4 linked regions of the Homo sapiens genome follow. The protein of the gene in region 3 purifies or fractionates together with the protein of the main gene of each other region. This does not show direct contact. Each region holds a gene or a part of one and is shown on either strand. Other genes may lie near its edges.

The links.
Region 1: the proteins of ZNF746 (region 3) and EIF3E purify together in Homo sapiens (affinity purification with mass spectrometry; 2 studies listed by BioGRID and IntAct, with this or other methods). This does not show direct contact.
Region 2: the proteins of ZNF746 (region 3) and ZNF212 purify together in Homo sapiens (affinity purification with mass spectrometry; 3 studies listed by BioGRID and IntAct, with this or other methods). This does not show direct contact.
Region 4: the proteins of ZNF746 (region 3) and EIF3B purify together in Homo sapiens (affinity purification with mass spectrometry; 2 studies listed by BioGRID and IntAct, with this or other methods). This does not show direct contact.

What each region holds. Positions count from the first base shown.
Region 1 is NC_000008.11:108,200,716-108,203,717, forward strand, and holds the end of EIF3E (eukaryotic translation initiation factor 3 subunit E), read right to left. Parts: intron 2,789-3,002; coding exon 2,686-2,788; intron 2,403-2,685; coding exon 2,268-2,402; intron 1,209-2,267; coding exon 1,170-1,208; 3' UTR 501-1,169; downstream 1-500. UniProt on the Homo sapiens protein: Component of the eukaryotic translation initiation factor 3 (eIF-3) complex, which is required for several steps in the initiation of protein synthesis.
Region 2 is NC_000007.14:149,242,651-149,246,150, forward strand, and holds part of ZNF212 (zinc finger protein 212), read left to right. Parts: intron 1-3,500.
Region 3 is NC_000007.14:149,487,810-149,491,309, reverse strand, and holds part of ZNF746 (zinc finger protein 746), read left to right. Parts: intron 1-3,500.
Region 4 is NC_000007.14:2,361,327-2,364,826, reverse strand, and holds part of EIF3B (eukaryotic translation initiation factor 3 subunit B), read right to left. Parts: intron 2,183-3,500; coding exon 2,063-2,182; intron 1,758-2,062; coding exon 1,700-1,757; intron 1,196-1,699; coding exon 1,067-1,195; intron 456-1,066; coding exon 298-455; intron 1-297.

The sequences.
Region 1 (3,002 bases), on a different chromosome or scaffold from region 3:
TGGGAGGTCTCCATGCTCTTTGAATGGCAGATGCAACCTAACTACCGTAGTCTCTAAACTGAGTATGGAAGGTGGCCTGATCAGATGTCAAATAAAAGAACAGTATGTACCTTTTTATCTTTGAACCTCCTCCTTGAGAGCAGCAACAAGTTTCTGTTATCTGACTGGCTGTCAGTTCAACCAAAGTGAAAAATCAAGCCACTTCTATGTAAAAAAGGGACCCAGTGAGGGCTCTGTAGCTCTTAAATACCTCCAGTATCCAGTAAACAGTATGTCTGTATTTAACATTTGACACTTATAAAATTCAACTTATATGCCTAGTCTCCGTAACTATACAGTGAGTGACTGAGGAGCCACTTTTAAGAAATTAAGGAACAACAGTTTTATTTGTAATAGTACCAAACTGGAAACAACTAAAATATCCTTCAATAGGTACATGGTTAAACCACATGGCACATCAATACCAGTTAAACCACGTGGCACATCAATACCATGGAATACTATTTGGCAATAAAAAAGGAATTAACTACTGATCATATATATATATATATCTATCTCTCAACTTGGATGGCTCTCAAGAGCATTGTGATGAATGAAAAAAGCTAATCTCAAAGGTTGTGTATTATGTAATTCCATTTATATAACATTCTCATAATGACAAAATATAGCGATGAGGAACAGATTAGTGGTTCCTAGGGTTAGAGTTGGTTGGGAGTAGGTATGGCTACAAAAAGGTAGCATGAGGGAGATCATGATGATAGTTCTCTATCTTGGCTGCAGTGATGGTTACACAAATCTACACGTGATAAAATGGTAGGGAGCTATTTGTACACACATTGTACCAATGTCAACATCCTGGTTTTGATACTGTACCATAGTAAGACAAAGTGAAAAAATTGAGGGAAACAGGGTTCAGCCTACAGGGACTTCTCTGTACTATTTTTGCAAATTCCTCTGAATATAATTATTCCAAAAAAGAAAGTTAAAAAAACACAAACTTGCACATGCAAGAAAACTGACAGCAAGATAAAATGAATCAATTTTATTCCAATTCTTCAAAATTTATACGTAATATGTTGTTTCCAAAATGTAAGTCACCCTTTATATAATAGTTTTATTATTTCATCTTTCTTTGATAGTTTTTTTTTTCATCTTTTCTTTATGGTTCTTCAGTAGAAGCCAGAATCTTGAGTTGCCCAGTTAGGAGCCTAAAATATGCAAAAAGAAATCAACACCGTGAAAAGAAAATACTTTCGGAAAAAAACTAACATAGAAGAAAGTAACACAGCATTTACTTCAGCACTATAGTCTCTTGCCAAACCATTCTAAGATCTTAACTCCTGCAATTACTAGATGTCAGATGTCCCACTCAGGACAAAACAAACACCAAAATTATTATCTGGTATAGCTTTTGGCCAATTAAAATATATAGCAATAACAGTATCATTAATACTGGAACAATAAATGATACAAATTAATCCTAAAGCATACAGAAAAAAACATCATATGAAAGTTACTTTCTAGGCTCAGTTATTCTAAACTTGGCTAAAATATGCAACTTGAATTCTAATGCATCCTTCTCATTTGAACTAAAGGATTATTCTGCGGACACAAATTTGTTCCTAAAATTTCAATCAAATGGGGTCTCTGCATATCCCACAACTGCTTCCTAATGACTTCCTACCCTCCAGTTACACATAATCATAATGTCTAAACAACACAGTTTAGGATTCCAAAATTATAAGGCCATTCAAGTTTCTTCAATCTCTAACATGCAGGATCTCTATCAAAATGGGAGATTAATTTTTGATATGAATATCAGATGAAAGATAATGAAATTTGTATAAGATCAGCACTAATACATATAATAAGATCAACATTTTTACAGAATTATTTCTTTAGATTTAGAAAGAATACACATTTCGAACACTTGAAAGAGGGCTACACATGTAAGTTATCATCTGCCAGTATCAAAATGATGTGTTGAAAACCCTGAGGAAATGAGTTAATGAAGTCACACAGGAAGAGTCAAAGCAAAAGAAAAATAGTTATAATAAACTAGGAACACAATTTCTTTTTCAGTTTCTATGTTTAATGCATATAATACATCTAAGAAAAAATTTTCTGTTTAGTAATTTCTTAAAAATGTTCATATCTTTAAAGAGAAAAACAAAATCAGCTACAACTCATCAATACACTTTGAAACTTCATGTAACAATTACATGGTTGCTAAACCCCAGACAGAATAGAAGATGTGTGGTTCTTACCTCTGACCTGCTATTCTGATTAAGTTTCTTCTCAATATTCATGGCCAACATCTGGCTTCTAAAGGAAAGGCTTTTGGTCTTTTCAATCACTTGCTGATAGGGTGAGACTGCATTGTTACCCATAACCACATGACCCTAAAAGGAAACACAGGGAAATTGATCCTATAATGTTAATGACTGAGTTTCTCAGGTAAGTAAAAAGCATGACATACCTTTGCGCATATTTTAATGCACTGTATAGAGATGACAATATTTACCAAGGAAGAAAAAAAATAGGAGGCTTCTGTTGCCTTCAAAGAACTGTTTTACATTAAAACAAAATAAATTATTAAAGGAGGTAATAAAATGTCCTAGTTAAGAATTCCCAAAAGTATAATCAGGAACTGATAGTATGTAGCATAGCTAACATAATACTCACTAATTTAGAATCAATCTTGGCATCCAGTCTTGCATTTCTAATCAAATTTACAATCCACCTTTCAGCTTCTTCTGGAGTCATGTTCAATTTATCTGCCAACATGCTAATGAAAAAGTAAAAACAGCAATGTTAATTAACTGGGCCTAAAAACTTAGTTTTATGTACACAGTGTTGACTCACACTCTGCATAGATACTTTTTGGTATTTCTGGATCACCCTTCTCTTATATACCATGACCCCTACTGTCTGATTTGTTCATGTGCTTGTGCCTATTGACTTGTACTATGCACGACCTATTCCATTCACCAACTGGACTG
Region 2 (3,500 bases), 250 kb from region 3:
TATGAGAAGATGTGATGATGCATGGAAATGGTTAAATCTAAACAAATAGTGACTTAATAAAACGTAACAATTTCTTGTTGTGTTAAAAACAATTAAAATACATGATGGCATTGATGTAAATATGAGGAAGAGATGATCAGAACTAAAGTGTTTAAAGGGCTTTGTTAAAGGGCCTTCTATGTATGTTTCCCATAATTTCTAGGATACTTGCTAAACAACTCGAAATTGGTCGTATAACTTACAGATCAGAAAGGGGGATAATGGAATAAGAAAAAATTAATGTAAAAGAAGACAAGAAAGTAGAGAAGAAAGATGGGATAAATAGCACAAAAAAGGTAAAAATAAATCAAAGCTAATGAACAATTACAATAAATGTAAATGAATGAAATGTTCAAGTTAAAAGGCATAGATTGTCAGGATGGGGGAAAAATCCAACTAGATGGTTTAAAAGAGTTACAACCGGCTGGGCGTGGTGGCTCACGCCTGTAATCCCAGCACTTTGGGAGGCAAAGTTGGGTGGATCATGAGGTCAGGAAATTGAGACCATCCTGGCTAACACAGTGAAATTCCGTCTCTACTAGAAATACAAAAAATTAGCCAGATGTGATGGTGGGTGCCTGTAGTCCCAGCTTCTTGGGAGGCTGAGGCAGGAGACTGGCGTGAACCCAGGAGGCGGAGGTTGCTGAGGCAGGAAAATCACTTGAACCTGGGAGGCAAAGGTTGCAGTGAGCCAAGATTGCGCCACTGCACTCCAGCCTGGGTGACAGAGTGAGACTCCGTCTCAAAAAAAAAAAAAAAAAAAAAAAAAAGAGAGAGAGAGAGAGATACAACTAAAAGATAAGGATATAGAAACAGTTGAATATAAAAGGTCATGAAAAAATATGCCAAGCAAATACTAATGAAAATAAAGTTGACAAATATATTTAGTATCTTTAGAGATAGAAGGCTCCTACTACTTTTGTAATGGTAAAAGACTCAATTTACCAGCTAGATACAAAATTTCTAAACCTGTATGCACCTAATTACATAGCCTAAAAATATATAAAACAAAACTGACAGAATTGCGAGAAAGATTCACTGTTATAATAGGAGATTTTAATACAACCTTAGTATTTTATCAAATAGAAAAGACTTATAAGGGTGTAGTGCATCCAGTAGAACTTCCCAAGATGATAGAAATGTTCTGCTCTGCACTGTTTAATACAGTGGCCACTAGGCACATGTGGCTTTTGAGCACTTGAAATGTTAGCTAGTATGATTGAGGAACTGAGTTTTAAATTTTATTTATTTATTTTGAGACAGACTCTCACTCTGTCACCCAGGCTGGAGTAGAGTGGTGCAATCTTGGCTCACTGCAACCTTGCAACCTCTGCCTCCCAGTTTCAAGTGATTCTTCTGCCTCAGCCTCCTGAGTATCTGGGATTACAGTCATGTGCCACCACACCCGGCTAATTTTGTATTTTTAGTAGAGACAGGGTTTCATCATGTTGGTCAGGCTGGTCTTGAACTCCTGACCTCAAGTGATCCGGCTGTCTTGGCCTCCCAAAGGGTTGGGGTTACAGGCACGAGCCACTGTGCCCGGCTAATTTTATTTAACCAGCCACATGTGACTAGTGGATATTATATTGGAAGCACAGGTACAGAAATGATTATTTTTATTTTTATTTTTATTTTTTTTCTGAGACAGAGTCTCTCTCTGTTGCCCAGACTGGAGTGCAGTGGTGCGATCTCGGCTCACTGCAAGCTCCGCCTCCCGGGTTCATGCCATTCTCCTGCCTCAGCCTCCCCAGTGGCTGGGACTGCAGGAGCCCGTCACCACGCCCGGCTAATTCTTTTGTATTTTTAGTAGAGATGGGGTTTCACCATGTTAGCCAGGATGGTCGCGATCTCCTGACCTCATGATCCGCCCACCTTGGCCTCCCAAAGGGCTGGAATTATGGGCGTGAGCCACTGCACCTGGCCAGAAATGATTTTTTTAATCCATATATCTATCAGTATATAATATCAAAGTGTAGAGACAAAATGAAAACAAAAGAGAGGAGGCAAAAATAAAAACCTATTGGGAATGAAAATGTGTGCATTCCCATGTCTATTGGTTGATGCTGGTGTGTAGACTGAGATTGTAGGTAAGGCCGTTGAACAGAACACTTCATGCACCCTCTTCATGTGGCTTGGGATTTCTCAAGGGATTCTAGCACCTGGCTGCCTGTGATTTGCCCCACTTGACAGAGAGTGGAGCAGAGACGAACCATCCATGTGCCACCCTCCTTTAACTGCAGATTCACATGCAAAGTAGATGATGATGTCTTAAGCCACTAAATTTGGGGATTATTTGTCATACAGGAGTTGATGGTTGGAATAGATACCTAGGGAAAATGTTAAAACATTGAAAGATATTAAAAATGGAGTCTCAAAAGGCTGGGCATGGTGGCTCATGCCTATAATCCTAGCACTTTGGGAGGCTGAGGCAGGTGGATCATTTGAGGTCAGGAGTTTGAGACCCGCCTGGGCAACATGGTGAAACCCTGTCCCTACTAAAAATACAGAAAAATTAACCAGGAGTGGTGGCACACACCTGTAATCCCAGCTACTTGGGAGGCTGAGGCAGGAGAATCACTTGAACCTGAGACAGAGGTTGCAGTAAGCTGAGATCATGCCACTGCACTCCAGCCTGCAGCCTGGGCGACAGAGCGAGAGACTCCATCTCAGAAAAAAAAAAAAAAAAAGGATTTGCATACTATGTTTATGAATTGAAATTCATCCTAAATGTGTCACTTTTCTGTTGGGTGGGGTGACTCATGCCTGTAATACCAGGACGTATAATCGTGCCACTGCCCTCCAGCCTGGGTGACAGAGTGAGACCGTGTCTTTATTTATTTGAGACAGAATCTCTCTCTGTCACTGGAGGGAAGTGGTGTGATCATGGCTTCCTGCAGCCTCAATCCCCTGGGCTCAAGTGATCTTCCCACCTCAGCTTCCTGAGTGGCTGGAACTATAGGCACCTGTCATCATGCCTGGCTAATTTTATTGTCTTTTTGTAGAGATGGGATTTCACCATCTTGCCCTGGCTGTTCTTGAACTCCTGGGCTCAAGCTGTCCTCCCGCCTCAAGCCTCCCGAAGTGCTGGGATTACAGACTCGAGCCACTGTGCCCAGCCATAGATTCCCCAAGTGGGATTGCTAGGTAAAAGGGTTTTTAATGACTTGAAATTTTTCTTCCCCTAAGAGTGTGTAGTATTTTTCATTCCTTCCAGGAGTGTTATGAGAGTCAGTTTACCACATTATAGTCAGCTCTGAATGTTATTCTTTGTGTCTGTTTCATGTTTGTCAGTCTGATGGGTGAACGTGCTTTCACTTAGTTATATTTGGATTCCTGATTGTAAGGTGGTTGTGTTTTCATTTGTTTATTGACTGCCTGCATTTCCGCTTCCATGAATGATTTACAATCTGCAGTTTTATTTTGGGGTTCTTGACCTTTTTCCACTTCATATTCTGTTTACA
Region 3 (3,500 bases):
GTAAGACCCTGTAACACTCTCTAGCTGCACCGTATGATGTTCAGCAGCATCCGTGGCCTCTACCCACCAGTAGACAAGATGAGTAGACACAAACTCCACTGTCCATCCTGAGCCTGTTGGCAGGGATCTGTGTGGCGTTTATCCCTGTCCCCTTTGTCTGAGAAGCCAGGACTCCCAGCTCATCCCTTGCCACATTTGGCCTGACCCATCCCCTTGTGAGACCTCACCTCCCCTTCTCCTCACCTCCTGCACATCCCTCCACTGAGCCTTGTGGGACTCAGGGCTCAGCAGACCCGCCAGGTCCTGAGTGTTCCCTGCTCGGACTGAGCTCCAGGGGACTGCAGCCCTCTGAGTGCTTGTCATCCTCTTCCCTGCCTCTGTCTTGAGCCCAGGCCCACTGGGACAGGGTCCTCACCCCTCAGATTGTGCCTCTGCCAGCCTCAATCCCTCTCTAGAGACCTTGCCTTTGGGTCCCAGGCCTTGTCTTTTTGCTACTTCTGCAGACCTTCCCTCTCTTCTCAACACTCTTCCTGCCCTCAGTCTTGGCCATGGCAGCCTCCTTGTTGATTGTCCTGTGCCCCCCCAACCCATCCCACAGCCATCCGTGACTGTGACGACAGTGACTTTACCATACCCACCATCTCCATCTCCAGCACACCACTCCCTGGCCGCCTCCTGCCGTCCCTTCAATTCCGTCTGGTGTCCTGATTCCAGCAGTTTTCCAGTCCTTCAAGACCTGCAAGCCATCGACCCTGCTGCCTTTTCACTGCCCTGACTCATCCTCATTTCCCTCCATGCCCACCATTGTGGTCCCCCCTTACACACACCCTCAGCACTCTTGCCCCTGTTTTGTTCATTGTATCCACTTAGTGAAATCCATCGGTGTTCTGCACCTGCAGCCAAGCAGCTGCACGTGGCTGCAGAGAACCAGGTAAGCTGGCTGCTGGTGTCACGTGACATTCATGACCAGCGACTTCAGTGGGCGCTCTGCCACACAGTCACACCGTGTCTCCTTAGCCCAGGGGCCAGCAAACTGTGGCTGAGGGCCAAACCTAGCTCATCTGTTTCTGTATGGTGCACAGCTGAGAACAGTTTTATATTTTAACCCGTTTTTTAAAAGAGAAACGCACCACTCACACAGCCCTCTCCACGCCATCTGCCTGCACCAGTGCCCCCTTCTCTGCCTTCACTTCTGTGACTGCTAAACTGTCAACCCTCCAGCCAAAGCCCCACTTCGATCTGGCACCAGATCCCACCTCATGCCATCTTCTCAAGGGCAATACAAGCAATCCTGCCTTGACCTCTACCCCGGCAGCCACTGCCCGCTTGTCTGTTCCCCTTTGTGGCAGAGCCCTTGGGGACATCTGCGCTTGCTGTCTCCTGCACCTTCCCCCCCACTCTGTTACCCCTTCCACCAAAACCTCTCCAACCTCGGTTACCAGGGCCCTCCGTGGTCCTGAATGGTCTGTCTTCTTACTTGGCCTTGTCCCCTCTACTCTGCCACGTAGGCCCGTCATCTCCTGCCAGCCCCTCTCCTCCTGCCCTGATCCCCCAGTCTTGCCTCAGCCCAGCAGAGTAATCCCTTTTAGACCCAAGTCCTGGCTTTCCATCTGACCCGCACCGTCAGCTCACCACCTCCACTTTTCTCTCACTCTGCCCAGCTGCAGAGTGCTGTTCCCTGGTGCTGTTCCCTCCGCCCTGTGCCAGGGCCTTCGCAGTGCCCTCTACTGGGAATCCTCCTCAGGCAGGTCCCACCTGCAGGCCTTTCGTGTCATCGGCACTGCAGGCCCTCCCCACCCAGGACTCCAGGCCTACTTTCCTGCTTTGGGTCTTCCGTGTTAGACAGTGTCACATAATATATATGTTTCCTATTTATAGATTCATCGTATGTCAGGTCTCCTCCATTAGAATGTCAATTTCAAAAGTATAAAAATTTTTACCTGTTTAATCATTTTAGGAACCTAGAGTATTGCCTAGTACAGAGTAGGAATTCAATAACTATTTGCTGAATGTATGCTGTTTCAAAATTTAAAACGTGTGTGTGTGTGTGTGTGTGTGTGTGTGTGTGTGTGTGTGAAATAATGTATTTCTGATAGCATTTAAATTCCTTTTTAGGTCTCCCAGGCCTCCCTAGGAATTTTCTGTTTATTCTTTCTATCCACATTTTAAAACGTCTGCTGTGTACTTTGGTAGCTGTAAACAATATATAATACGGTTTTTTGTGTTCTGAAAAATTACATAGATGTCATTATATTTATCACTCATTATTCTGTATTTCAGACTTATCCATGTTGATACATGTAGATCAAGTTCATTCCTTTTAACAGATGCTTAATATTCCAGAAGCAACTATATTGTAACTTATTTTCCATTCCTCCACTGATTGGCACTTAAGCTTTTTCTGATTGTTCACTCTCACAAGCAATACTGTAGTGAGCGTTCTTGCGCCTGTTTTTTTGTGGCCCTGTGGGGATGCTGCTCCAGGGAGTAGACCCAGCGGTGGCCTCACCACGTCGTAGGCTTGATTTCATCTCTTCCGTTACTGTATGGCCCTCCCCAGGGGTACCCAGTGCCAGCGGGTGCTCCTAGAACTTGCTTCCTAACGTCTGCCCAGTTTCCATAATTACATTTTTGCCGACCTGATGGGGGTGAGATGGCCTCTCGTTTCAACTTGTATTTTCCCCCTTAAGTTGCACGCCCTTTTTATACGATTATTTGGCTGCTTCTCCAGTGAGTTGTCTTCTGTTTTTCTATTGAGATATTCTTCATTTTCTTCTTGATTCAGGGCTTCTTTGTATGTGTTCTAGATACAAATCCTTTGTCTATTATTTGTGTTACAAACATTTTCTCCGTGTCGGTGGCAGGTCTTTAACGTTGTAGTTCTTGTATGGAAGTTTTCACTGTTGAAAGAGTCAAACATGTCAGTCTTTTCCTTTATGATCTGTGCTTTTTCTGTAGTGAGATATCCTTGCTTACCTCACTCAAGGTCAGAAAGATACTCTTCTCTATTTTTTTTATAAATTTTTAAAAGTTTTGCTTTTCAAATTTAAGTCTTTAATTTATCTAGAATTAAAATTTGTGTAGCTTGCAAGGGAGGGTTTCAGTTTTTTCTCCCACAACGATGGTCTCATTTTCCAACAAAGTTTGCTGAATGTGTTAGCTTTTCTCCACTGATTTGTGATGCGATTCTGTCCTGAGCTGGTTTCTGCATGTGCACAAGTCTGTTTCTGGGTGCTTGCTTCTGTGTCATTGGTCTCTTTGTCAGTCTCTGCACCAACAGCTTGCTCTTTTAGCTTCATAATAAGCCTTGATATCTAGTAGACTAATCCTTCTCTGCTTGTTCTTCAAAAAACTGTCTTGGCTATTCTTGGATATTTGTTCTTTTATATGAATTTTGGGATCTGTATGTCAAGTTCCTAAGAAAATCCTGTTGGAAATTTGATTGGAATTGCATTGACTTTACAGTCTAATTTCTGGAGAATTGCTCTCATGACAACATT
Region 4 (3,500 bases), about 150 Mb from region 3:
CAGTACCCACACTATGGTCACACTAACAAAATCCTATTTCTAGGAATACACATTCAGGGCTAAAGGGACATGTTATTTCAACTCACTCCCAAATGGCTCAGGAAAAAATATCTGTATAGGAGATGATGACGTAAATGCAACCAAATGTGAGAAGATCTCAGTAAAAAGCTTATTAGCGTTCTGCATACTCCCGTATTTTTCTACTAAGTTTGAAATGCTACAAAATGAAAGATCACCTGTAGAAGGCTGGCATGGGGTGAAATGCATAGACTCCCCTGTGTTTTTCTAGCAGCTTACCTTTCACAAGGTGAGAAGTCAATAAGCTGAACCCCTTGGTGGCTGAATCTCTGAATTTGCTTGAATTTCTCTCCCCCCCATAGAGCAATGCCTCTTTGATGAAAGGTAGCCAGGTAGGTGCCCTTAGGAGACCAACGCACATACGTCTCTGTCCATCTCTGCAGAAAAAGGCAGTGCCAACGTTAATACAACAAAATGGCAAACACAAAGACCCCTCCTACAATGAATTTATCCTACAATGAATCTGTTCTACAAACTTTTTTTTTTTTTGAGACGGAGTCTCGCTGTCTCCCAGGCTGGAGTGCAGTGGCGCAATCTCAGCTCACTGCAAGCTCCACCTCCCAGGTTCATGCCATTCTCCTGCCTCAGCCTCCCGAGTAGCGGGGACTACAGGTGCCTGCCACCATGCCCAGCTAATTTTTTTGTATTTTTAGTAGAGACGGGGTTTCACCGTGTTAGCCAGGATGGTCTCAATCTCCTGACCTCGTGATCCACCCACCTTGGCCTCCCAAAGTGCTGGGATTACAGGCGTGAGCCACCGCGCCCGGCCTATTCTGCAAACTCTTAAGTGAAATACACAAAGCCTGTTCACTTCTCAGGATTTACTTCAAAGCTGGAAGAGGAATAAAAGAAGTTGTTTTCAGAAAGTAATCTCAAAGAAAATATAACGTCACCTGCTCTTCCAGTTTTCTGATAGAAACAAAGTTCCACTTTGTTAAGGAAATACAGGAGAGGTGAGTCCCCGCCCCCAGCAGCAGCAAATACACACCGCTCTTTCTTCAATTGAGACAGGGTCTTTTACGTCATTCCAGAATATGGAAGTGCGGTCTCCACTCTCAAAAATCACACTGTACTGATCTCTGCATTCTGCCTCTTCAAGCCAGTAACGTAAGTTCCCCTTAAAAACAAAGACAAGGAATATAACATTTCATTAATTTTAATAAAAAACTCATTCACAACTATTGCTCTTAAAGATATGACAAGTTCAGTCCACATCTTAACTCCCAAGTCACACCCTAACCTCAAGTCAAGACACCGTCTAGCATTTCTTTTTTTTTTGAGACAGAGTCACGCTGTTGCCCAGGCTGGAGTCCAGTGGCACAATCATAGCTCACGGCAGCCTCAACCTCCCAGGCTCAACCTCCCAGGCTCAAGTGATCCTCCCCCCTCAGCCTCCCAGGTAGCTGGGAATACAGGTGCATGCCAGGCCCAGCTAATGTATGTATTTATTTACTTTTTGTAGAGGCGGGGGTCTCACTTTGTTGCCCAGGCTGGTCTTGAATTCCTGGGCTTAAGCGATCCTCCCACCTCAGCCTCCCTAAGTGCTGGGATTGCAGGTGTGACCCACCACACCCAGCAGCATTTCTTTAAACCACTGAGATGTAGGTTTCAGGCCACTCACCAGGTCTTTGAAAGGCTGTTTCTCTGGAATATCCCACTCGTCACTGATCGTCATATACCTGGAGAAGAAAGGAGACTGCTGAGCCCCACGCCCTGACGACTAGAAAGAGCAACTCGTGGGGGCTCCAGCATGGCCCTGCTGTGCTCCTGCCTGCCCGCCCCCAGGGCTGTGACTGGCATAACAGGGAGGGGTGCTGTAGGCCAGAAGTGTGGGGCAGGGCTGTGAAATGGCTCTGCGGCAGCCTGACCAGAAAGGATGTGAACAATCTGACAGACACCAGCACCGAGAAGCACCAAGCCACCCGCACACAGCCAGTCACTTGCACGTCAACGTCCACTTCCTTGTGGCCAAGTCTGAACTCACTTGTCAAAATCCGTAAAGAGGTTGACCCGGAATGTGTGCTGCTTGTCAAGCTTGTAGCCGTCGGCGTTCTTCACAGCATCCACAGCGTGGGCAGGGGACGCGTACTCCAGGAAAATATACCTGAGTGAGAGAGGGCCGTTGGCACATACCCACACTGTAAGGCTAGGCAGGTATGCGCTGTCCGCCCCACCCCTCTCCACGGACAAGCCCTCGGTGCCAGGAGTATCTGTGCTGCTCTTCCTGCCTCGAGCCTAAGGCAGTCACACGGGGGACAGATCCACAGCCAGGGAGCTCCTAAGTGACAGGGAAATCCTAACCAGAAGATCCGAAGTCTCTAGTTTCATTATCATAATTATAGAAAAGTTAATCAAAACGTCCATTATTTTGACTGTGGCGATGGTTTCGTGATATGTACACATCAAAATGTATTAAATTGTACGCTTTAAAACTATGCAGATTTACTGTATATCAATTATCTCAATAAAGCTGTTTAAAAAAAAATCTTGGCTGGGCGCAATGGTTCACACCTGTAATCCCAGCACTTTGGGAGGCCAAGGTGGGCAGATCACTTGAGGTCAGGAGTTCGAGACCAGCCCGGCCAACATGGTGAAACCCTGTCTCTGCTAAATATACAAAAATTAGCCGGGCATGGTGGCACATGCTTATAATCCCAGCTACTCAGGAGGCTAAGGCAGGAGAATTGCTTGAGCCTGGGAGGCGGAGGTTGCAGTGAGCCAAGATCGTGCCACTGCACTCCAGCCTGGGTGACAGAGCAAGACTCTGTCTCAATAAATAAATAAATAAATAAATAAGCAAGCAAGCAAGCCAGGCGTGGTAGTGTGCGCCTGTAATCCCGGCTACTTGGGAGGGTGGGGCAGGAGAATTGCTTGAACCCGGGAGGCGGAGGTTGCAGTGAGCTGAGATCACACCACTGCACTCCAGCCTGGGCAAGAGTGAGACTGTCTCAAACAAACAAACAAACAAAAAAAACTTAAAAGTAGTCTAATATTGTGTATTACAGGCAAGATTAGAAAGAAGCTCAGAGAGGCCGGGCGCGGTGGCTCAGGCCTGTAATCCCAGCACTTTGGGAGGCCGAGGCGGGTGGATCACAAGGTCAGGAGATCGAGACCATTCTGGCTAACATGGTGAAACCCCGTCTCTACTAAAAATACAAAAAATTAGCCGGGCGTGGTAGCGGGCGCCAGTAGTCCCAGCTACTAGGGAGGCTGAGGCGGGAGAATAGTGTGAACCTGGGAGGCGGAGCTTTCAGTGAGCCGAGATTGCGACACTGCACTCCAGCCTGGGCGACAGAGCGAGACTCCGACTCAAAAAAAAGAAAGAAAGAAAGAACCTCAGAGAATGTTTCATTATAACACGAGTAACTGAGGGTCAAGAGGCCATCCTTCAACTGACTGCCCAACACAGAAAATGCAGCAGC